Linked DNA regions of Homo sapiens: regions 2 and 3 are each linked to region 1. The links come from fine-mapping of genetic effects on gene expression. A gene starts in region 1. Each other region holds a variant in brackets. All regions are shown on one strand. Distances are from middle to middle.

Region 1 (7,860 bases):
CTGAATTCACTCCCTTGTCCTCTCCGATAAATGGGGTTCATCTATCCTTCCACCTGGAAGTGTCACCTCCTCCAGGAACTTCTCCCTCATTGCACCAGTCCTTACTGCTCTCTCCCTCTCCTGCTCCACTTGCCTCTTATGGCATTGACTGTACCTTTCTCTGGGGACTCAGGACAAACTCCTGGGGTTCTTACTGATCTCCCTGTAACAGGCTACTTCTCCCTAGTCAGTCAGCAAATCAAAGTAGCATCTTTATGTCCTTAGTGTCCTTTATGTCCATAGAGATGGCACAGAGAGCTGGACAGAGCCCAGGCAGAGCACAGCAGAGTCAGAGAGACCCACTGTGTGACACAGGGCAGCTGCCTCCACTGCCCTAGGCCCGGTTTCACCTGTTGTTGTGAATATCAATGAGATGATGGGCATAAAGGGGCCCAAGACAGGAAGAGGCTGGTTGACGTAATGACTATCTTAATATACTCCCTCACATTTGCATGGTGCTTCATAATTGAACACAAAAAACTTTAACAACCCAGTAAGGTAAGCAGGGAGTGATTAAGAGATCCATTTTAAGGATAAAATAACAAGGTTCAGAGAAGTTACGTAGGGAGGACAGACAGATGGACTTTAAAAGGAAAGAGAACAGGACCGGGGGTAGAACACGTGGGTAGAAATGCTAACTTTCCCACTATCCAGCCGCAGGAGCTTGGCCAAGTCTCTTGGCCTCTCTGGACATCAGTTACTCCATCTTATCTGAGAGAGTTTCTAGCTGGTCTCTATCTTAAAAGGGTCCCTCAGCCCTGACATTCTAGTTTCCTGTGATCTGCCCAGGGTCCTTCCCAGCAGGACTGTACAAAAGGGCTGCGAGTCCCAGGACAGGGTCCCTAGTTACTCCCAGGAAACCAGTCAGAACTGGAAGACTTGACTTAAGAATCAGTTGCATTTTGATTCAGTCAAATAGAGCTACAAGCCTGGGGGTGGGTTAGTCAAGCCCAGAACTGGGGGAAAAAATTGCAGCATCAAACTATATGTAAACACAATATAATCGCAAAATATAAATGCAAATGCAAAACCAAACAGGAAACCTCAGGGAAGTCTAATCCAAAGTTCAGACTCTAACTTTTTGGGCCCTGAGATGCTGAAGAGAAAAGCTGTGTTTGGGTGCCGCAAGCCTTTCTGTTGTAACAATGAACCTCTACGTGCACCAAACCAAAAATCTGAAGGCAAAGGAGGATGGGTTTTGTCTTGCCTGAACTGGGGCAAAGCTGAGCCCTGAACAGAGCCTGCTGTGGCCTCCAGACCCATTCTAAGGGTCCCTCCCCCAACACACAGTGCTTACACTTACACAGCCAGGCAAGGCCAGATGTATGGGCATAAATGGGCATTTCTGTCCATGGATAAGGTTCATATTGGAGCCCCTTCTCCTGCTCTAAGATTCTAATGAACAACCTGGGGAGGAGGATGAACCATGAAATCCCTAAGAATGTGGATGGCACTGAGCTATTCTGGGTCATGAAATGTGAGGCTATGAAGACAAATCTCAGGAAGCTCTCCAAAGGATGGGCTGGACAGCAGTGTTTCCCTGTGAGCCCCACAGTAAAATATAACCCACATCCACAGGCAGTGGACTCTGCCCAAGGAAGGAAGCCAAATCTGACCGGCTGCTTCTTATTTTAATAAAACATGTACCCCTACTATGTGCAAAGTAGTAGGCTAGGCTCCGTGAGACAAATGAGACAAGGTGAGGCTCTGTGAGACAAATGAAGACAAAAGAGACCCAATCACTGTCTAAAGAGATCTGCCGATTAATCTGACGATAATCATTCCATTTATCAAGAGGCATGGGCCAGTGCAGCGGCTCACACCTATAATCCTAGTACTTTGAGAGGCCAAGGCGGATAGACTGCCTGAGCTCAGGAGTTCAAGAACAGCCTGACCAACATGGTGAAACCCTGTCTCTACTAAAAATACAAATATTAGCCGGGTGTGGTGGAGCATGCCTGTAATTCCAGCTGCTTGGGAGGCTGAGGAATGAGAATTGCTTGAACCCGGGAGGCAGAGATTGCAGTCAGCTGAGATCGCACCACTGTACTCCAGCCTGGGAGACAGAGCAAGACTCTGTCTCCAAAAAAAAGATGCATGCTTTATATGCATTGTCTCATGTGAGGTACACATTATTACCCCCATTCCACAGATGACAGGACAGGTCACATGCCCACGTTCACCCAAATGGCAAACTGCAGAGCCAGCGTTTGAAAAAAGGTCTGCCTTGGCCGGCGCGGTGGCTCACGCCTGTAATCCCAGCACTTTGGGAGGCCGAGACGGGCGGATCATGAGGTCAGGAGATCGAGACCATCCTGGCTAACACGGTGAAACCCCGTCTCTACTAAAAATACAAAAAAAAAATTAGCCAGGCGTAGTGGCGGGAGCCTGTAGTCCCAGCTACTCGGGAGGCTGAGGCAGGAGAATGGTGTGAACCTGGGAGGCGGAGTTTGCATTGAGCCAAGATCGCGTCACTGCACTCCAGCCTGGGCGACACAGCGAGACTCCGTCTCAAAAAAAAAAAAGGAAAGAAAAAAGGTCTGCCTTCCCCAAAGTCGATGCTCCTTCCACAATCCTCTATCACCCTTACAAAGTGATACAAACAGACTCCGAGATGGAGGGTCACCCTGACAAGAGAGAAGAGGACAGATTTCCTGACACTGGCGCAGGGTGTTATGAACTACTGAGCTTTGTATCTGCCACGCAGTGGGTGCCTAGTACACTTAAGGTGAAGGGTGGAAGGCTAGAGCCGTTGCTGAGGTCCAAAATGCCACCCAAATTGAGGGCATCCTTTGGATGGGGAGCTGCAAAAACACATTATTCTCCGTTGGACCAAGGCCACGGGGTGTCTGTCCTAGAATATTCTTTGCAGAGGAGCTGCGGAAAGCTGCAGCAGGTTCAGAGAAGAGGAATGGAAGGAACTCCGAAGAGCATGGGAATGGGGTGGGGCAGCCTGCAAGACCGAAAGAAAAGGCCTGGGACGCTTTGCTGGGAAAGACAAAGAGGAGAGGGGAGGGGAGAGGAGACGATAAACTTGCCAACAGCCCGGCCAAGGTGAACCCCGGCTCCTGGCGCCTTCCCATCCGCATTCATTCCACAAACGCGGGCCAAATCTCCGAACCAGCCGCAAGCGGGAGGGGGCCTCTCTGCAGCCGGGGGGAAGAAAGTTCAGGACTGAGGCGGGAAGCCTGCCTCTCAGAAGGGGAGTGACTCGGGGGGCACACTTGTGGGGCTCCGAAGATGAAAACGCAAACTGAGGCTGGAAGGCGCTAGGCAAACACATATGTGATGAGGCGGTCACGCGGGGCACTTGGGGTACGTCCCCCGACCTGTGGAGTTTGTCATCGAAGAGACCTCGAGGCCCCCCAAAACGGTCCCTCGGGCCTTCCCCCGCCTCGACGGTGAGGACGCAGCTGTTGGAGATGCGCTCGGTCCTCCCAGACCTAGGGAGGGGGCAGGTTTCGGGGCGCGGTGAAGGGCCATCGCAGCTCGGGTGCGACACGCCTGTGGAGGTCAAGGCCAGGCCCGGCGCCGACCCCCGACCCCTCCCGCCTCGGCCCCCTCACCTCCTCCCGCGCCAGCGCCGCCCCTCGGTACCGGGGCATCTTGGCGGCGAAGGCGGCGGCCCCAGCCGGGGAGCTGAGGTCCTCCGCGGTGACGGCCAGGAACTCGGCGACGCTGAACTGCTCCGGCATGGCGGGCGCGAGCGTGGAGCTGCCGGAGCGGGGCGCGGGGGGCACTGAGCTGCTCCGCGCTGAGCCGGCCTCACCGCCGGCCGGGGGCGCCGTCCCGGCCTCCACACGCCCCGCCCCTCCGCACGCCCCGCCCCCGACCCTCCAGCCGCTCTCCGCTCCTCAGCTGGGACGGCCCCGCCCCCGGCTCCTCGCCTTCCTCCACCGCCAAGGTCCAGGCTCCGGCCCCGGTCCCGGCCCCGCACCGCGTCAGGCCGCTTCCCCGGCCCCTCGCCGGCCCCCTAGGCCACGCCCCCAGCCCCTCACCGCCTCAGACCCCGCCCCCTGGCGCGATGCCCCACCCCTGGCCTCAGTAGAAACTCCTCCGCCTTCCCCCATCCCTGCCCCTTCAGGGCTCTGTCCCGTTTCATCCCGCTCTGGGTCTTCCAAATCCTCCTCCCTTGCACGGCCCAGGCTGTTCCATCTCCGCGTCGAGTCTTAGAGCCCCCTCCCTCTTCCTCCCTCCTCTGCTGATTCGTTCCGAGTTCCCCATGACCTCGCCCCTTCTGCCCTACCACCCCCCCGCCACCCTTCCCTCCTCTCTCCCCAGTCCCGCCCAATCTCCTTGCCTCGCTCCGCCCCGAATCGCCCCACCCCTCCTTTGCTGCGTACGCCCAGCTCTCAGCCTCAGCTTTGCAGGCATCCGGAGACTCCCTCCTGATAACCCCCGCCGCCCCGGGGATGTGTGGATCGGGGCCCCTGGCTAGCTGTGTGACTTGGGGAAAATTACTTCTCTTCTGGAACCTCAGTTTCCTTATCTGTACAATGGGAAGCCTGATGCCCGCTTGATTGTGATGTTGCGAAGAACCGAACACGTGCGTGTACTAGTTCCCTCTTACCCGACCATAGATCGCACCCACGCCTTTACTCTTCCTGCTCCTGCCTTTCACCCCTTAATCTGGCTCACCATCCTTTGGGGCGGATGAGGGATGGGGTTCAGGATAGAAATCCACTTAGGTTTAGTTCTGAAGCCTGAGGTCCTCTGGGGAAAAGTTCTCCAAGTAAAAAGCTAGGAAAGCACCGCAGCAAGGAACATTGGTTTTGGAGTCAGAGGAACCTAGATTCCAATCTTGGTTACTTTGGATAAATTGCTTGCTTCTCTAAGCCTGCATTTCCCCCTCTTAAAATGGCCTCATGGTATTTTACCCCACAGGGCGGCGATTGAGAGAATCTTTTCTTTTCTCGCACAGAAAAGAAAAGAAAAGAAAAAATCCGGAAAGATATGCACTAAAATGTTGCACCAGCAACATTTTATGCACTAGCTGAAGACAGATATGCACTAGCTGAAGACATTATGAGTAACTTTCTTTTCTTTTGGTGAATCTGTATATCCTAACTTTTATACAATGACCATATACTACTGTGTAATAGAATTAAAAGTTGACGGGAGCGATGGCTCATGCCTGTAATCTTAGCACTTTGGGAAGCCGAGGTGAGCGGATTGTTCAGGAGTTCAAGGCCAACCTGAGCAACATGGCGAAACCTTGTCTCTACAAAATATACAAAAATTAGCCCGGCGTGGTGGCTCTTGCCTGTAGTCCCAGCTACTTGGTGGGCTGAGGCAGGAAAATGGCTTAAACCTGGGAGGTCAAGTTTGCAGTGAGCTGAGATCCTGCCATTGCACTCCAGCCTGGGTGACAAAGTGAGACCCTGTCTCAAAAAAAAAAAAAAAGAAAAAGAAAAAGAAAAGAAAGAAAAAAGAATTAAAAGTTGAAAAAAATGTGTACCATCTGATAGAGACGACAACTATTCCAAGAGTTCTTTCAAGGTCAACTTCTCCTGTTGAAACCAAATAGGCACTTTTCTTGTTATTTATTTTTAGAGACAAGGTCTCACTCTGTCGCCCAGGCTGAAGTGCAGTGCAATGATCATAGCTCAAGGCAGCCTCAAACTCCTGAGCTTAGGCACTTTTCTTGCTTGACTTTTAGGAGCATCTGACAATGTTAACCACTCCCTTCTCCTTGAAACACCCTTGCCCCTGAATCCTAGGAGAACTATTTTCTTTGGTGGCCCTCTCCCTCTGGCTGTTCCAAGAGCCCTTTCTGAGATGCACTTCCTCCGCAGGGATCTTAAATGCTGGAGTTGTTGGGAGCTCTCTGCTAAATCCTCTGCATGTCTCACTCTATCAGCCTTCCTGGATTTCTTCATCCAATCCCAACGGTAATGTTGATGTCTTCTGTACTAGTTTCCTGTTGCTACTATAACAAATCACCAATAACTTCCCTCAGCCTCCCGAGTAGCTGGGATTACAGGCACGTGCCACCACACCCAGCTAATTTTTGTATTTTTTAGTAGAGACGGGGTTTCGCCGTGTTGGCCAGGCTGGTCTTGAACTTCTGACCTCAGGTGATCCGCCCACCTCGGCCTCCCAGAGTGCTGGGATTACAGGCATGAGCCACTGCGCCTGGCCACATTTATTCTTTTACATGTCTGGAGGTCACAAGTCTGCAATAACTTTCACTGGGCTAAAATCAAGGTATCAGTGGGGCTGTACTTCCTCTGGATGCTATAAGGGAGCATCTGTTTTCTTGCTTTTGCAGCTTCGAGAGCTGTAGTTTTTGCATTCTTTGGCTTATGGCACCTTCCACCTTCAAGGGCAGCAGCATCTTCAAGCATCTTACTTGCCTTCTTCCCTGTGATCAAATTTCTCCCAGCCTCCCCACCCCTCTTCTTTTTGTTTTTTTTTTGTTTTTTTTGAGACGGAGTTTCACTCTTGTTGCCCAGGCTGAAGTGCAATGGTGCGATCTCAGCTCACCACAACCTCCGCCTCCCGGGTTCCAGCGATTCTCCTGCCTCAGCCTCCAGAGTAGCTGGGATTACAGGCATGCGCCACTATGCCCGGCTAATTTTGTATGTTTAGTAGAGATGGGGTTTCTCAATGTTGGTCCTCGAACTCCTGACCTTAGGAGATCCACCCGCGTCGGCCTCCGAAAGTTCTGGGATTACAGGCATGAGCCACGGCGCCCGGCCCCCTCTTTTTTTTTTTTTTTTTTTTTTTTTTTGAGGCAGGGTCTCATTCTGTCACTCCAAGCAGTGGAGTGATCACAGCTCCCTGAAGTCTCAACCTCCTGGGCTTTTGCGATCCTCCCACCTCAGCCTCCCAAGTAGCTGGGACTGCAGGTGCATGACACCACGCCCAGCTAGTTCAACCTCTCTCTTTTTTTTTTTTTTTTTTTTGAGACGTGATGCCTCTCTGTCGCCCAGGCTGGAGTGCAGTGGTGTGATCTCAGCTCACTGCAACCTCTGCTTCACAGGTTCAAGGGATTTTTGTGCCTCAGCCTCCTGAGTAGCTAGAATTACAGGCCCATGCCACCACACCCAGCTAATTTTTTATTTTTATTTTTTATTTACTTATATTTTTATTTTTTGTATTTTTAGTACAGACAGGGTTTCATCATGTTGGCCAGACTGGTCTCCAACTCCTGACCTCAAGTGGTCCACCCACCTGGACCTCTCAAAGTGCTCAGCCTCCCTCTTATAAGGACATTTGTGATTACATTTAGGGCCTATCCAGATAATCCAGGATAATCTCCCCATCTCAAAATCCTTAATTTAATCACACCTGCAAAATCTCTTTTGCTATATAAGTGCCATTTACAGGTTCCATGGATTAGGACCTGGATATCTTTGGGAGCCATTACTGAGCCAATCACATCTTCCAAGGCTGTATTTCCAGCCTGGACTCTTCTCTAGTTCAAGATCTATGTATCCAGCCACCTATGAGACAGTTTCATTTCACTGGCTCACAGACAGACACCTTAAACTCTACAGGTCCAAAACTGAACTCACCATCTCGTACGCCCACTCCTTGCACCAGATTGTTTTCTGTCCCTGTCTTGATGGAAGGCATTACCATGCACCCCCTCGGAGTCATCCTCTCCTCCCTTCTTCTACCAACCTCCCCTCAAACAAGTCTTGTCACTAGTCTCACCAGTGAGACCACCTTCTCCATCTGCAGGCCAACCCCAGTCCAGACCACTGCCACCTCTCACTTCCTCGCTGGTCTCCCTGCCCCTAATCTTGCATATCTGTTCTGTTGCTCCTCTACTTAGAACTCTTCAGTGCCCCCCGCATTGCTCTCTGAATAAAA
Region 2 (7,860 bases), 66 kb before region 1:
ATGTCTGTGTTTCAGGCCATAATACTGAGTCTCAGAGAAGAAGGCCATAAGTGACAAGTTCAGCCCAGAACCTGGCTTTCTGCTTTTTCATTGTTACCTCTCCTACACCTGTTGTTCTCATACAGGCCTTTAAAAGAAATCCCTTTACTGTTCTTTTTTTTTTTTTTTTTTTTTTTTTTTTAAACAGAGTCTCACTCTGTTGTCCACGCTTGAGTGCAGTGGCGGGATCTCAGCTCACTGCAACCTCTGCTCCCGGGTTCAAGTGATTCTCCCGCCTCAGCCTCCTGAGTGGCTGGGACTACAGGCGTGCACCACTACCCCTGGTTAATTTTTGTATTTTTAGTAGAGACGGGGTTTCACCATCTTGGCCAGGCTGGTCTCGAACTCCTGACCTCAGGTGATCCACCCACCTCGGCCTCCCAAAGCGCTGGGATTACAGGCATGGGCCACTGCGCCCAGCCTCTTTACTGTTCATTCAGTGGGGCTTGGGGATGGAGCAAACAAAAACAAAAACTGCATGTGTTCAGGCTGCCACTTTTACCTGGATGCCTACACTCCCCATGTGACAGATTAGTCCCAAATCCCATTTGGTCCCTCCCCAGTAGTTCAGCCTCTAGTCCTTCAACTTCATCTCATAAGAGCTCTCCTGCTCCTGGTCCTTCATTTGCCAAGGTTCTCATAACCACACAGGTGCTCCAGACATGGCCAGACCAGCCAGGGCATGAACAGGAGGTAATCCACAGGGCAGGGGACCATGCTGCTACAAATGGGCTAGCAGTATTCAGTAAATGTTCACTCCGTGCTAGGCACTGTGGAGATGGTCAGGGATTCCCCGAGCCAAACTTCTAACCCCTTTGGGAAAAGAAAACACACTCGTGTGAAAAGTTAGATGCCAATTAGGGTTTTTCCAAGTAGGATACACTTGCAAAATGAGCAATGGAAAGGAACAGAACATAGAAAATGTGACAAAACCATTTCACAGGCATTACCTTTTAAAAAGCAGGCTATTAAAATTGGGGATGACTATAGAAAACAAGTCAGAGAACAGAAAGAAAAGCCATACACTAACTCATCAAGAGTGATTGTCTTTGGGTGGTGGGAATGTGGGTGATTTTTTTTTCTACTTTTCTACATTTTCCTTTTTTTTTTTTTTTTTTTTTGTGAGACGGAGTTTCGCTCTTATTGCCCAGGCTGGAGTGCAATGGTGCAATCTTGGCTCACTGCAACCTCCGACTTCCAGGTTCAAGTGATTCTCCTGCCTCAGCCTCCCGAGTAGCTGGGATTACAGGCATGTGCCACCACACCCAGCTAATTTTGTATTTTTAGTAGAGATGGGATTTCTCCATGTTGGTCAGGCTGGTCTCGAACTCCCAACCTCAAGTGATCCGCCCACCTCGGCCTCCCAAAGTGCTGGGATTACAGGGGTGAGATACCGTACCCGGCCTTCCATTATTTTCTACAACAGATTTTTATCACTCTTATTTGTTTAGTTTTTAAAAGCACTATTATTATTTTTTGTTTCAAAAGCAGTACAGGATCATTGTGAAAAAACCCAACAATTCAGATTTAAAATTTTTATTGTATAATACAGAAAGTAGAGATCCTTTTAATTTATAATATATGTCTTGGTTTTTGTTTGTTTGTTTTTGAGACAGGTTCTTGCTCTGTTGCTCAGGCTGGAGTGCAGTGGCGCAATCTCAGCTCACTGCAACCTCCATCTCCCGGGCACAAGCGATTCTCCCACCTCAGCCTCCAGAGTAGTTAGGATTACAGGTGTGCGCTACCATGCCTGGCTAATTTTTGTATTTTTTGTAGAGGCGGAGTTTTGCCATGTTGCCCAGGCTTGTCTCAAACTCGTGGGCTCAAGTGATCCTCCCGCCTCAGCCTCCCAAAGTGCTGGGATTACATGTGTGAGCCACTGCGCCAGGTGCAATGAATCTTATAAGTGGCTATTGCCTTTGCTAGCATCTTGGAATCTTTGTCTTTGGGACTGTTACAAGATTCGGGATGTGAGGCTTATACCCGCTGTGGTCTTGTTTCCCCGCACCTAGGCTGTTGCCTGGGTGGGCCAGAGAAGAGCTCTAGACTGCCGTGCGGTCTCCTATGGGAACTCTCTGTAGAGAAATGCTGGAGGCCCTCCCGCAGACGCACTCTTTCCTGTCCCTGCATCCTTCTAGGCAAAGCCAGTGCCATTTATGTCCTATTTGGGTCTTGTGAGTCTAACATCTGGTTGAGCCAAAGAAGACCCCCAGAGGGGGCACTGCAGGAGATAATACCAATATCTTCCTCCCCAGGATGAAAGGTTTAAATGAGATAATATACACTGAGTTGCTGTCAGAGGACGTGACAAGTGTCAGCTCCCTTCTCTCCATCCCAAAAAAGAATACCTGGTTTTGGGGTCTTCTCGTTTTTTCCTTGGTGGAGAAAGGCCTGCTTCTGGCTTCCAGTCTGAACACTCAAGCCCTTTTTCCTTCTTCTTTGCCTTTTCTCTTTCCTCTCCTTTTTCTCCTTTTGGGGGTCCAGGGGAGTCTGAAAACAAAAGGGTGGCATTGTCCCTCAGCTAAGCTCTGTCTCAGCAGAACCCAGCATGACTTAGTGGGGAGAGAGCAAAGGGCAGGGACGAGGACAGCTGCACACACACTCCCAACACACACACAAACACATTTACACACAAATGCACAAACAACAGGAACGTGTGTACAAATACACAGTCTCACATGGGGACATTAATACATTGGCAAACACATCTCTGCACATATTAAGACAAATGTGTGCATGTAGACATGTACTATATAGACAAATGCATGAGAGCACAAACACGTAAGTGGCAC[A/G]TGTACACAAAACTCACAAGTCTACAAATCTTGCACTTGTGTACACAAACATTGGCAGTCCCCCACTAGCTACCTCCCGGATCCAGAGGCCATCTGTCACTGATTAAGTCACTCAACAGACATACACTGAGTGCTGGCTATGAGCCAGGCCCAGTCCTGTCCCAAGTGCTAGGAGAAAAACAGGGCTCAAGACAACCTTGTCCTCTCTCACCTAGCAGCCGCTTCCAGTTTTTGATAAGGACTTTGGCCAAGGACACCACCTCCTTGTCTGAGCAGTGCTTGCGGACCCCATTAACAGCAACTCCAATCCTGGTTGTCTGCAAAGTGAGAGGGTTAAGGCATAATCTGGGAATGGATACACAGGAATGGCTGCCATCATTGGCAGATCCTGCCCCAGCTCTACCACCACCTCCCCTTCCAACCTGGACCCCCAGAGTCCTAGCCCTGACTCCTGGCTGAGGTCAGAACCCCACTACTGTAACTAAGGCCCTGCTCTGCACGAGGCCGAGGGCCCAGGGCTAAGCCTGACATGGAGGATATCTGTAGCTTTGGTGAAACCTGAACCTAGGGTTGGGGGTGGCACTTGGCTGACTGTCAGGACCCCTCCCATTCCCAACCCTCTAGTGTCTATTTTTTTGAGATGGAGTCTCGCTATGTTGCCCAGGCTGGAGTGCAGTGGTGCAATCTCAGCTCACTGCAACCTCCACCTCCCAGGTTCAAGCGATTCTCGTGCCTCAGCCTCCTGAGTAGCTGGGATTATAGGTGTGCATCATCGTGCCCAGCTAATTTTTGTATCTTTAGTAGAAACGGGGTTTCACCATGTTGGCCAGGCTGGTCTCGAACTCCTGACCTCAGGTGATCTGCCTGCCTCGGCCTCCCAAAGTGATGGGATTACAGGTATGAGCCACCGTGGCCAGCTCACTCTAGTGTCTTTGAGCTCCAGTTTCAACTGAGACAGCAGCTCCGGCTATGAGACCTTGCATCTGTCTGTGCTGATTTTTCAGGGCCAGGAGCTTTTGGTAAATCTGGGGACTTTAAGGGCTACACAGGGATTTTAAATGGGGGCTTTTCCCTCTCCCTGGATCATTGGCCTCTTGGATCCCACAGGCCCAGGGCCTTGGGAATTGGGGTATTCAAGAAAAGCGAACCAGTCTTGCTCCAAGGCCCAGAGGTCCCCTACACCTAGAAGATACCCTCTCCGCCCCCGAGATGCCCCTGTGTCCCCCTCAGTCCCTCCCTGGGAGGTCTCCACCTCAAGATCCCCTCCCCACAGGCCCCCCTCAGAAATTCCTCCCAGACTCCACCTTCCCCCACCAGGGGTCTTTCCCTCCCCCACCAGCTCTCCCCCCAGGCACTGTCCCAAGGCTTCCCACCCCCGCCCCACCTGTAGTAGCTGGATGGACATCTGGCAGCTGTGCAGCTTCTTCAGAAGGTCCAGGGCCCCTTCCTGTGGGAGGCCACAAGGTGAGGACTGGGGCCTGGGTCCTGACCAGGCTTCTCTGACTATTGTGTGGTCTTGGTACAGAGAGCAGGAGGATACAGACAGACATGTGGCCGAAGGACAGGCAAGGGGCAGAAGGAAGGAGAGAGACGAGAAACAATCTGTCCTAGGTGGTGCTCTAACTTCATCCCCCGCCACCTGCTGGGTTCAAACCCTCTGAGCCAGGCTCCTGACCTCCAGCCTTTGGTTCTGCTGTGCCTCTCCCCAGGAATGCCCTCCCCCTTCCCCATCTTTCCTCCCAAATGAATTCCTTCCTGGCTTATTGTTGCTCGTGTGCCTGTAGCGTCCTTCCCTTACCTCCCCACTGTGAACTTCGCAGGGTGAGGACTGGGAGCCTTTTAAAAAACAAAACAGAACAGTTTGGCCAGCATGGTGGCTCACACCTATAATTCCGGCACTTTGGGAGGCTGAGGTGGGCGGGTCACTTGAGGCCAGGAGTTCAAGACCAGCCTGGCCAACATGGTGAAGCCCCATCTCTATTAAAATACAAAAATTAGCCAGGCGTGGTGGCGCATGCCTGTAATCCCAGTTACTCAGGAGGCTGAGGCAGGAAAATCGCTTGAGCCCAGGAGATGGAGGTTACAGTGAGCCAAGATCACACCACTGCACTCCAGCCTGGGTGACAGAGCGAGACTCCAACTCGAACAAAACAAAACAAACAAAAAACAGCTTTTTTGAGGTATAATTCACATACAATAACTGCACACTTTGCAGTGTAAAATTTGATAAGTTTCAACATACGTGTACACCCATGGAACCCTCACCACAATCAAGATAAAAGCACAGCCACCAGCCCCAAAAGCTTCTTCCTGTCCCCTTTCTAATCCATCCCTCCCCATCCCCAATCCTAAACAACCACAATTCTGCCTTCTGTTACTATAGTTGACCTTGTATCTTTAAGGATTTTATGTAAAGAGTATGTAGGGCAAAAACCCTTTTTTATCTGGCTTATTTCGGCATAATGATTTTGGAGACTCATCCATGTTGTCTCGTGGATCAGTAGTTCCTTTTTATTACTGAGTGGTTTCCACTGTATGTATGTACCACAGTTTGCCTGGCATTTTTTGAGACAAGATCTCACTCTGTTGCCCAGGCTGGAGCGCAGTGGCACAATCACAGTTCACTGCAGCTTCGACTTTCCAGGCTCAGGTGATCCTCCCACCTCAGCCTCCCGAATAGCTGGGACCACAGGTATGCACCACCACATCTGGCTAATTTTTTGCATTGTTTCGTAGAGATAGGGTTTTGCCATGTTGCCCAAGCTGGTCTCAAACTTCTGGCCTCAAGTGATCCTCCTGCCTCGGCCTCCCAAAGTGCTGGGATTACAGGCGTGAGCCACCACACCCAGTCTACCACAATGTTTTAAATTCATTCACCGGTTGATGGGACTTATGGATAGGTTCCAGTTTGGGGCTGCTAGAAATAAAGCTTCTAGGTACATTCATTTCAAGTCTTTGTGTGAACAGGTACTTTAACTTCTCTCGGGTAAAGAGAACCGTTCTAATCTCTGAGAACTTAGGGCTCAGCAGAGAGTCCAGTGCTCCCTGAGTGGATGAACTTGTGCAGAACTAAAGCAGAAAGAAGGCAGGAGGCAGAAAAAGGCTTAGGTTTGAAAATCTGTGAGCTGCCAGGCCCTGGACACCCTCCGACCCATTTCAGCCTTCTCCTTTCCCCCAGCCCCTTCCTAGAAGCCATACCTGCCTGCTGTCCTGAGATCAGTTCCCTGGGGAGCACCAGGGGACGGTGTCCTGTATGTTCCTATCCTTGGCCCACAGTTCATGGTTCCAGCTGCCAATCCCCACCCTGGCAGGACCTGGACCATGTCCTAAGAGCTGCCCTCTGTCAGTCCTTAGCCTCCCTGAGAACTTGGGTTCACAGTAGGTTTTCAGAAGCGTGACCTGCAGATGTGTGTGTATGTGAACTTGGGGGTACACAACTCCAAGTGTAACATTAATTAAAGGCTTGCTATGTACTAGGCACTCTTCTAAGTTTTTTACCTGTATTATCTCATTTAACATTCACAATGGCCCTATCGGGTAGGTCCTGTGTATTATTCCCATTCTTACAGAATTATTATCCTGTGTTCACCAAAGAGCAATCCAAGAAAGAGAGAGGTTAAATAATTTTCTCAAGGTCACATGCTTTATAAGGAGCCAAGTTGGGATTCAAACTCAGTCCTTTTGGGCTCTAACCACTATACAAATTGTGTTAGCATGGGCGCAGATCTGTCTAGACATACACAATCATGGAATATCAACATGGGTAAGTGCAGTGGTGTGCTGGCCAACGTTTAACAACCAGTTCTCAAGGAAAAAAAAAAAACTGACCTGTAGTGTTTGCCAATTTCTGTGGTGTAAACACTCATCCCATGGCCAATTTCAAGCTACCAACATGCTGTCACTGAACTGAAGGAAGTTTTGGGAGGAGACGTACACTACCATACCATTATATAATATTTCCACTGTACAGATAACAATAGAAGTAAATTATCTCTGACCATACATGACAGTACAATGTAGTAAAACAATCAGGAAGTGATTATTTTGGAGGATTCCTTACCTTTGTTTTTAATATAATTTATTTATTGTAAGCAGATAATGTAGTTTTTTGAAACAATTGCTGTGTTTAACCACCAGGTTGCAAAATTCCTGAAAACGCAACAATCTGTGTTAAGCCAGTTCCAGCTCTCCACTGGGTGTATGCCTCGTGTGTCACAGCTGTATAACTGGGTCATATTGGAGGAGAATAGCCATGAGCCTGGATTGTAGCTGGATAAACAAAGCCTTGTGCAAATGTTGCTGGGTGTATCTCTCTGAACATACAAATGGGTTCTGTAGCCAGTAGTATCTCTGGTCTAAGTGTGCAGCTGTGAATATGCAGCTCCGGGCACAGCTGTGTCTATTTGGCTTTGTGGGATGACGCCTGTGTTATAAGATCTGAATGTATAAATGTGGCTGTTTGCTAAGTCTGTAGCATTGCATGTCTGGGTGTAGCTGTGCTGCGTGCATACGTGTGTGGCTGTCTTTGTGTATCATTCTATAACTATAATGGTCAATGTGGGTCATATGGGTCAGTATGCTTGTCATGTTGGTGTCAGTAGCCGTGTCTCATACGCAGTTAGGTTCAGTTGCTTGTTTAACTACTGTGTTGTGGCCACATGTTATAGCTATGTGTGTGTATGTAGCTGTGACCGTAGGCACTTGGTTGCATGTTTGAAGTTGCTTCTGTTAGTGCATGCTCAGAGGATGTGACAAAGCCTTAAGTGGCTGAGACTTCAGCAACCGGCAGTAAACCCCGGGCCTGAGCTGCAACGTGGAGGATCCGTCTTATTACAGGAAGTATGTCCTCCTCTGCCTAACCACTGCTGGGCGGGTCCACTTTCACTCCCAGAGCAGGCCCCACCTTTCTCGGCCAGACGCCCAGAGCTCCATGCCCACCCAGACACTGCCGAGAGCCCAGGCGCAGACGTGGCTGTAAACTGGCTCCATGCTGCAGGGACCCTGCGGCCAGACTTGCATCTTTTCAGGG
Region 3 (7,860 bases), 52 kb after region 1:
GACAGTCTGAAAGGCTGGGTAACTTGCCCAAGGTCATACAGAGAGATTCCCTGATTTGAGAGCTGGCAACAGAATCTGGGACAGGTCCCAGCTCTGGAGCCCTTGTTTTTCCAGTTAAGGGGTTCTTCTACTCTCCCAAGCTGCCTGGGGGCACAGCAGGGTCAGAGTCCCACTGCAGAGCTTTGTCTTGTTCACAGTTGTATTATTAGGACCCAATACTCAGTAAATGTTTGAACATCTCTAGGTTTCTTTTAAACAATCCTTTTGTCACAAGAGCCTCTCTGCCTCATTCAAAAACCTTCATTGCTGATAATACATTCCTCATCACTCCGGTTTAGAGAGGCTCAGAGAAGCAAACTTGGGTAGTGAGTGGTAAAAAGTTGCTAGAAGCTGCTGCTAGATTTCAGGTCTGATTTCTTGCCTGGTGCTGTGTGATTTTTATGCAAGTCTGAGCCTTGGCATTCAAAGCCCTCCAGAGACAGTCCACAGCTTAATTCCTCATTAGATGGTTGAGGCCAAGGTGGCAATAACCCATGATGATTAAGAGCCCAGGCTTTGTAGCCAACAGCCCCGAATTCAAACCCAGGCCCAGACACTTTATTATTCATTGTGTGACCAAGGCAAATTTTGTAAATTCTCTGATCCTTGATCCTTGATTTTCTCCTCCTAATAGCACTTACCTCATATGATCATGAGGAAATCTCATGAGATAATGCATATAAAGCTTTCATCACAGAACCTGGATCATAAGGAGCCTCAAGAATTGGCAGCTGTTGTTATATCTCTGACTTTTTTTTTTTAGACAGAGTCTCACTCTGTCACCAGGTTGGAGTGCAGCGGTGCAATTCTCCTGCCTCAGGTTCAAGTGAGTCTCCTGCCTCAGCCTCCCGAGTAGCTGGGATTACAGGCGCCAGCCACCATGCCTGGCTAATTTTTGTATTTTCAGTAGAGGCAGGGTTTCACCATGTTGGCCACGCTGGTCTCGGACTCCTGACCTCAGGCAATCCGCCCTACTTGGCCTCCCAAAGTGCTGGGATTACAGGTGTGAGTCACCGCTCCCGGTCACATCTCTGACCTTATCTCCAGTGCATAAGACCCTTTTACTCTAGTCTACGTATCTCATTGGTCCTTTTTGGTCCTTTGAGGGCCAGCTTAAATCTCACCTCCTCCAAGAAGCCTCCCCTGCCTGCTTCCTCTCAGCCAGAATGGCTCTTACCCTCTTGGGACCCTTAGTGTGTTCTACCTCAACAAAACAAGGCTTCGTTTTCATACCTTGTTTATCAGTTAGGTTCTATGCTCCTTCAAGAATCTAGGTCAGATCTCTCTAGAATGCCCCTTAGCATCTAGGGCCTGGCTTGGAGTGCAGAAGGCAGGTAATAAATACTGATTATGATTCACTCATCTGCCTGGCTGCAAAGAATAGGAGAAGTTAATGAGATCTGAAGTCAGAAAGTCAGGAGGCCCAGATTAAGTAAGTCCCGCTCTCTACTTCCTAGTTAAGTGACACTGGACAGCCGCTGCTTCACTTCTCTTAACCACAATTTCCTCAACCATCAAATGTGGATAATGCTATCACTCAGTCAATTTCACATTACTTCAGAGACACTACTTAAATGACAGTGGTGGCGATGATCACTGATTTTTATTGAGAACCTACTATACACTGGGCTCTAAGCACCTTGAGCCCCTCCTCTGATCCTCACAACACTGCTCTGAGACGGACACTATTATTATCCCCATTTTACAGATGAGGGAACCTGGAAGGAATTGTGGCAGAGCAGGTTTGGGGAAGCAGCAGGGCCCCAGGGCCAGGGAGGGAAATGGGGGTGGCAGGGTGGAGCTGGGAGAAAAGAAGGGAGCCAGTGAGGGGCTGAGAGCCAGCTCTCTGTGGTTGAGTTTCGGGCAGCTGGGGCTGGCTTTAGAGTTTCACTGCCTGGGAACTGACTAATTCTTGCAATAGGTGTGGGGCACAGATCTGAAATCTGCCTCCCTGAGCTTGAATTCCTGCCCCATTCATTCCTAGCATTGTGATCATGGTCAGGTTGCTGGACCATTCTGAGTCTCAATTTCCTCATCTTTGAAATGGAGGCGGCACAAGTGACCTCTCCATTTACTGTGAGGCCTTAGTAAGGTGTTGGTTATAAAGTCCTTAGAGAAATGTCAGGTGCATGGTAGGTACTTAATATATTTTGGCTAAGGTTTATGTGAAATGGACCCGAAGAGGCCCTCACATGGAACCAGACTAAATACTTGCAGTTTCAGGCCGGGCACATTGGTTCATGCCTGTGAACCCAGCACTTTGGGAGGCCAAGGTGGACAGATCTGTTGAGCCCAGGAGTTTGAGACCAGCCTGGGCAACATGGCAAAACTCTGTCTCTCCAAAATACAGAAAAATTAGCTGGGCGTGGTGGCACACGCCTGTAATCCCAGCTGCTCGGGAGGCTGAGGTGGGAGGATCACCTGAGCCCAGGGAGGTCAAGGCTGCAGTGAGCCATGATCATGTCACTGCACTCCAGCCTGGGTGACACAGTAAGACTGTCTCAAAATAAACAAACAGGCCGGGCACGGTGGCTCATGCCTGTAATCCCAGCACTTTGGGAGGCCGAGGTGGGTGGATCACTTGAGACCAGGAGCTTGAGATCAGCATGGTCAACATGGCAAAAACCTGTCTCTACTAAAAATACAAAAAAAAAAAAAATTAGCCAGGCGTGGTGGTGTGTGCTTGTAATCCCAGCTACTCGGGAGGCTGAGGCAGGAGAATCGCTTGAACCCAGGAGGTGGAGGTTGCAATGAGCCAAGATCGTGCCACTGCACTCCAGCCTGGGTCACAGAGCGAGACCCTGTCTCAAACACACACACACACATACACACACACACACACACACACACACACACACAAAACCCTCAGAGTTTCTGCCGTACACGCCCTACACTTTCCCATCTCCCAGGCTTTGCTTACCTGGCTCCATATCCTCCTATTCTTCAGGCCCCGCCTCCCCTCCAGGCCCCTCCTCCCCTCCATCCCCATGTGCCCAAATCTGACTCATCCTTCAAGGTCCAACTCAAATGGAGTGGAAGGAGCAAAGAATCTGAAGTCAGACATCCCAGGGTTCAAACCCAGGCCCTGACACTTTATTAGCTGTGTGACCCAGGCAAAATTTCCTAAATTCTCTGATCTTTGATCCTTGATTTTCTAATCCTAATAGCACTTACCTCATAGGATTGTGAAGAAATCTCATAGATAATGCATATAAAGCTTTCAGCATGGAACCTGGTTTATAAGGAGCCTCAAGAATTGGCAGTTTTCTTACGTCTCTGATCCTATCTCCAGTGCATAAGACCCTTTTACTTTAATCTACCTATCAACAAATCTTCAGACTCCTTGGGGGCAGGACCCAGGCTTTGTTTTCACTTTTGCGCCTTCCTCCCCTGAGATGCCAGGCACAAAGTAGGCCTGAAATAAATGATAATAGTTCACATTTCCTGAGAACTTCCTAGGCGTAAACACCCAGCTAGGTATTTTACATACATTATTTTGTCGAAACCTCCCAACTACCCTGTAACACAGGTACATTTTGGACAGATGAAGAAATTGAAGCTGAAATATGTAAAGGAACTTGACAACTGTTTGAAGATGAAATCAGGATCTGAACTCAGATCTCTCCCAAGGCACTGCGCTGTTGTGAACAGTGAACTCAGCCCCAAAACCCCATGTGAAGGAGGGTACATTCTGCTAATGAACCAGGGGTTCCAGTGCTGCACACATTGCTGGAAGTGGAAAGACTGTGTCCCACAACTGGATGAGTTGGGGATGCTTAGTACTATTTTCCAGATGAGGAAGCCATGACTTGCCTGAGGCCACAGAGCAGGTAAGTGAGGAAGTTCCTGTTCCAGGCAACCCCAGATAGTCCTGGAAAAATCCCCAAACTAAAGCAAACTTCCATTCCAGCTGGTGTATCTTCTCCTGAAAAATTCCACAGATTCCCTGTGCTCAAAGTCCTGTTAATCAGAATACAAACTGCTTGACAGACACTTCCTGAAGGTACATATTCCCTGTCCCGGGCTCCTCAGCACATCACCTGTTCACACGAATCCCAAATCACAGAGAAACCAGATCAGAGCTATGGGAAACAAGGGAGAAAAATCCCTGCTCCATCTTCTTTGTGCTTTTCCTATTCTACAATAAACATGTATTACTTTGGTGATTGGAGAAAAAAAAGTTGTTTTTTAAAAAGAGAAACAAGGT[A/G]TTGCTTTAAGGAAGTTCTGCTAGTGGTAACCTTTTTACTGGAACATTGTTGGAAGATGGGTTCGTGGGCTTTTCTAACAGTGACTGGCATGTAGTAAACACTATATGAATGTTTGTTAAATACATAAAATTCTAGGTGCAGGCCGGGCGCGGTGGCTCACGCCTGTAATCTCAGCACTTTGGGAGGCTGAGGCGGGCGGATCATGAGGTCAGGAGATTGAGACCATCCTGGCTAACACGGTGAAACCCCGTCTCTACTAAAAATACAAAAAATTAGCCGGGCGAGATGGCAGGCGCCTGTAGTCCCAGCTACTCGGGAGGCTGAGGCAGGAGAATGGCGTGAACCCAGGGGCGGAGCCTGCAGTGAGCCGAGATCTCGACACTGCACTCCAGCCTGGGCGACAGTGACTCTGTCTCAAAAAAAAAAAAAAAAAAAAAATCTAGGTGCAGTGGTTCGTGCCTGTAATCCCAACACTTTGGGAGCCCGAGGTGGGTGGATCAGTTGAGGCCAGGAGTTCGACACCAGCCTGGCCAACATGGAAAAACCCTGTCTCTACTGAAAATATAAAAATTAGCTAGGTGTGGTGGTGCACACCTGTAATTCCAGCTACTCGGAAGGCTAAGGCAGGAGAATCGCTTGAACCCAGGAAGCGGAGGTTGCAGTGAGCCAAGATTGCACCACTGCACTCCAGCTTGGGAGACAGAGTGAGAACCCGTCTCAAAAAAATAAAAATAAAGAAAAATAAAGAAAAAAACATAAAATTCTAAATCTTGGCACTCCATAAGCTATGTGCTCTTGGACATATCATTGCATTACTCTGGGCCTCTGTTCCTTCATCTGATAAACAGGGCTAATCACAGCTGTCTCGGGTTTATTGCGTTGAAGTGAATCTGGGATGGGATGTGAATGTGCTGTGTGTGTGTGTGTGTGTGTGTGTGTGTACCAAAATTTATTAAGAAGGCAAACAATTTGGTTGGACAACTCTTCAAAGAAAATATACAGAGGCCAGGCCGGACGCAGTGGCTCACACACTTGTAATCCCAGCACTTTGGGAGCCTGAGGCAGGTGGATCACCTGAGGTCAGGCGTTCGAGACCAGCCTGGCTAACATGGTGAAACCCTGACTCTACTAAAAATACAAAAATTAGCTGGGCGTGATGGCGGGCGCCTGTAGTACCAGCTACTCAGGAGGCTGATGCAGGAGAATCGCTTGAACCCAGGAGGCAAAGGTTGCAGTGGGCCGAGATTGTGCTATTGCACTCCAGCCTGGGAGACAAGAGCCAAAGTCCGTCTCAAAAAAAACAGGAAATATACAGAGGCCAATAAGCACGTGAAAAGATGCTCAACATCATTAGTCATTAGGGAAATGCAAATCAAAACTACAATGAGATGACACTTCACTAACCCACTAGAATGGTTATAATAGAAAAGAGAGACAATAACTAGTGTCGTCCAGGATGTGGAGAACCCTCATACATTGGAACCCTCATTCATTGCTGGTGGGATTGTAAATGGGTATAACTGCTTTGGAAAATAGTTCAGCAGTTTTTAAAAAAGTTATACAGAGTTAACCACATGACTCAGCAATTCTACTCCCATATACCCAAGAGAATTGAAAACATATGTTCACACAAAAATGTGTACACAGATGTTCATAGCAGCATTATCCATAATAACCAGAAAGTAGAAACAACCCAAATGCCCATTAACTGATGATTGGATAAGCAAAATGTGGAGTCCAGGCACAGTGGCACATGCCTGTAATCCCAGCACTTTGGGAGACCAAGGCGGGTGCATCAATTGAGCCCAGAAGTTTGAGACCAGCTTGGGTAGCACAGTGAGACCCCATCTCTACAAAAAAAATACAAAAATCAGCTGGGTGTGGTGGCGTGCACCTGTAGTTCCAGCTACTTGGGAGGCTGAGGTGGGAGAATTGCTTGAACCTGGGAGGCAGAAGTCATGCCACTGCATCCCAGCCTGGATGACAGAGCAAGACCCTGCCTCAAAAAAAAAGTGGTATATTTATATAATAGAATATTATTCAGCCAAAAAAAGGAAAAAAAAATTTTTTTTTTTTTGAGATGGAGTCTCGCTCTGTCATCCAGGCTGGAGTGCAGTGGTGCGATCTCGGCTCACTGCAAGCTCTGCCTCCTGGGTTCACACCATTCTCCCGCCTCAGCCTCCCGAGTAGCTGGGACTACAGGTGCATGCCACCACGCCCGGTGAATTTTTGTATTTTTAGTAGAGACAGGGTTTCACCGTGCTGGCCAGGCTGGCCTCAAACTCCTGACCTCAGGTGATGGTGATCCACCACCTCAGCCTCCCAAAGTGCTGGGATTACAGGTGTGAGCCACCGTGCCCAGCCTTTTTTTTCTTAATAGTGACGGGGGTCTCACTATATCCCGTGGTCTGGTCTTGGACTCCTGGGCTCAAGTAATCCTCCTGCCTCGGCTCCCAAAGTGTTGGGATTATAGGCATGAGCCACCACGCCTGGCCCCATAAAAAGGAATGAGGTACTGATACATGCTATGACATGGAAGACTCTTCAAGACATTATGCTAAGTGAAAGAAACCAGACACAAAAGGCTATGTTTGTATGATCCCATTTAGTGAAATGTCTAGAATAGATAAATCTTTTTTTTTTTTTTTTTTTTTTTGAGACAGAGTCTTGCTCTGTCACCCAGGCTGGAGTGCAGTGGCATGATCTTGGCTCACTGCAACCTTCACCTCCCAGGTTCAAGGGATTCTCCTGCCTCAGCCTCCCAAGTAGCTGGGACTACAGTTGTGCACTACCACGCCTGGCTAATTTTTGTATTTTTAGTAGAGATGGGGTTTCACCCTGTTGGCCAGGCTGGTCTTGAACTCTTGACCTCAGGTGATCCGCCCACCTCGGCCTCCCAAAGTACTGGGATTACAGACTAGAATAGATAAATCTATAGAAACAAAAAGTAGATTAGTGGGGCTGGGCGTGGTGGTTCACGCCTGTAATCCCAGCCCTTTGGGAGGCTGAGGTGGGCAGATCACCTAAGGTCAGGAGTTTGAGACTAGCCTGGCCAACATGGTGAAACTCCGTCCCTACTAAAAATACAAAAATTAGCTGGGCGTGGTGGCAGGCACCTGTAATCCCAGCACTTTGGGAGGCTGAGGCAGGAGAATCGCTTGAACCGGGAGGTGGAGGTTGCAGTGAGCCAAGATCGTGCTACTGCACTCCAGCCTGGGCGAGAGTGAGACTTTGCCTCGGAAAAAAAAAAGGCCAGGCACAGTGGCTCAATCCCAGCACCTGTAATCCCAGCACCTTGGAAGGCTGAGGTGGGTGGATCACTTGAGGTCAAGAGTTCGAGACCAGCCTGGCCAACATGGTGAAACCATGTCTCTACTAAAAATACAATAATTAGCCAGGCATGGTAGCGCATGCCTGTAATCCCAGCTACTTGGGAGGCTGAGGCAGGAGAATTGTATGAACCCGGGAGGTAGAGGCTGCAGTGAGCCGAGATCACGCCACTGCACTCCAGCCTGGGTGACAGAGCAAGACTCTGTCTCAGGAAAAAAAAAAAGTAGATTAGTGATTGCTGGGAATGGGTCAGTCTCTGTACAGATGAAGAACATGAGGCTCA

What was found.
Region 2: its variant is fine-mapped to the expression of ASAP3 in whole blood (TOPMed, PIP above 0.99).
Region 3: its variant is fine-mapped to the expression of ASAP3 in whole blood (INTERVAL, PIP above 0.99).

What each region holds. Positions count from the first base shown.
Region 1 is chr1:23,480,400-23,488,259 of GRCh38, forward strand. It overlaps ASAP3 (ArfGAP with SH3 domain, ankyrin repeat and PH domain 3), which reads right to left and starts at 3,780. Exons shown (of 25, transcript NM_017707.4): 1 at 3,606-3,780. The coding sequence starts at 3,734. RefSeq lists silencers at 3,615-4,064, 4,185-4,294, 4,305-4,354 and an enhancer at 4,545-4,644.
Region 2 is chr1:23,414,862-23,422,721 of GRCh38, forward strand. It overlaps TCEA3 (transcription elongation factor A3), which reads right to left. Exons shown (of 11, transcript NM_003196.3): 2 at 4,216-4,278; 3 at 3,043-3,148; 4 at 2,388-2,529. Among named protein-coding and RNA genes, the nearest start is that of TCEA3, 6.0 kb to the right of the region's middle. RefSeq lists an enhancer at 4,281-4,839. The variant A/G (reference allele first, on the strand shown) is at 2,832.
Region 3 is chr1:23,531,915-23,539,774 of GRCh38, forward strand. No RefSeq gene overlaps it. Among named protein-coding and RNA genes, the nearest start is that of E2F2, 4.6 kb to the left of the region's middle. The variant A/G (reference allele first, on the strand shown) is at 4,247.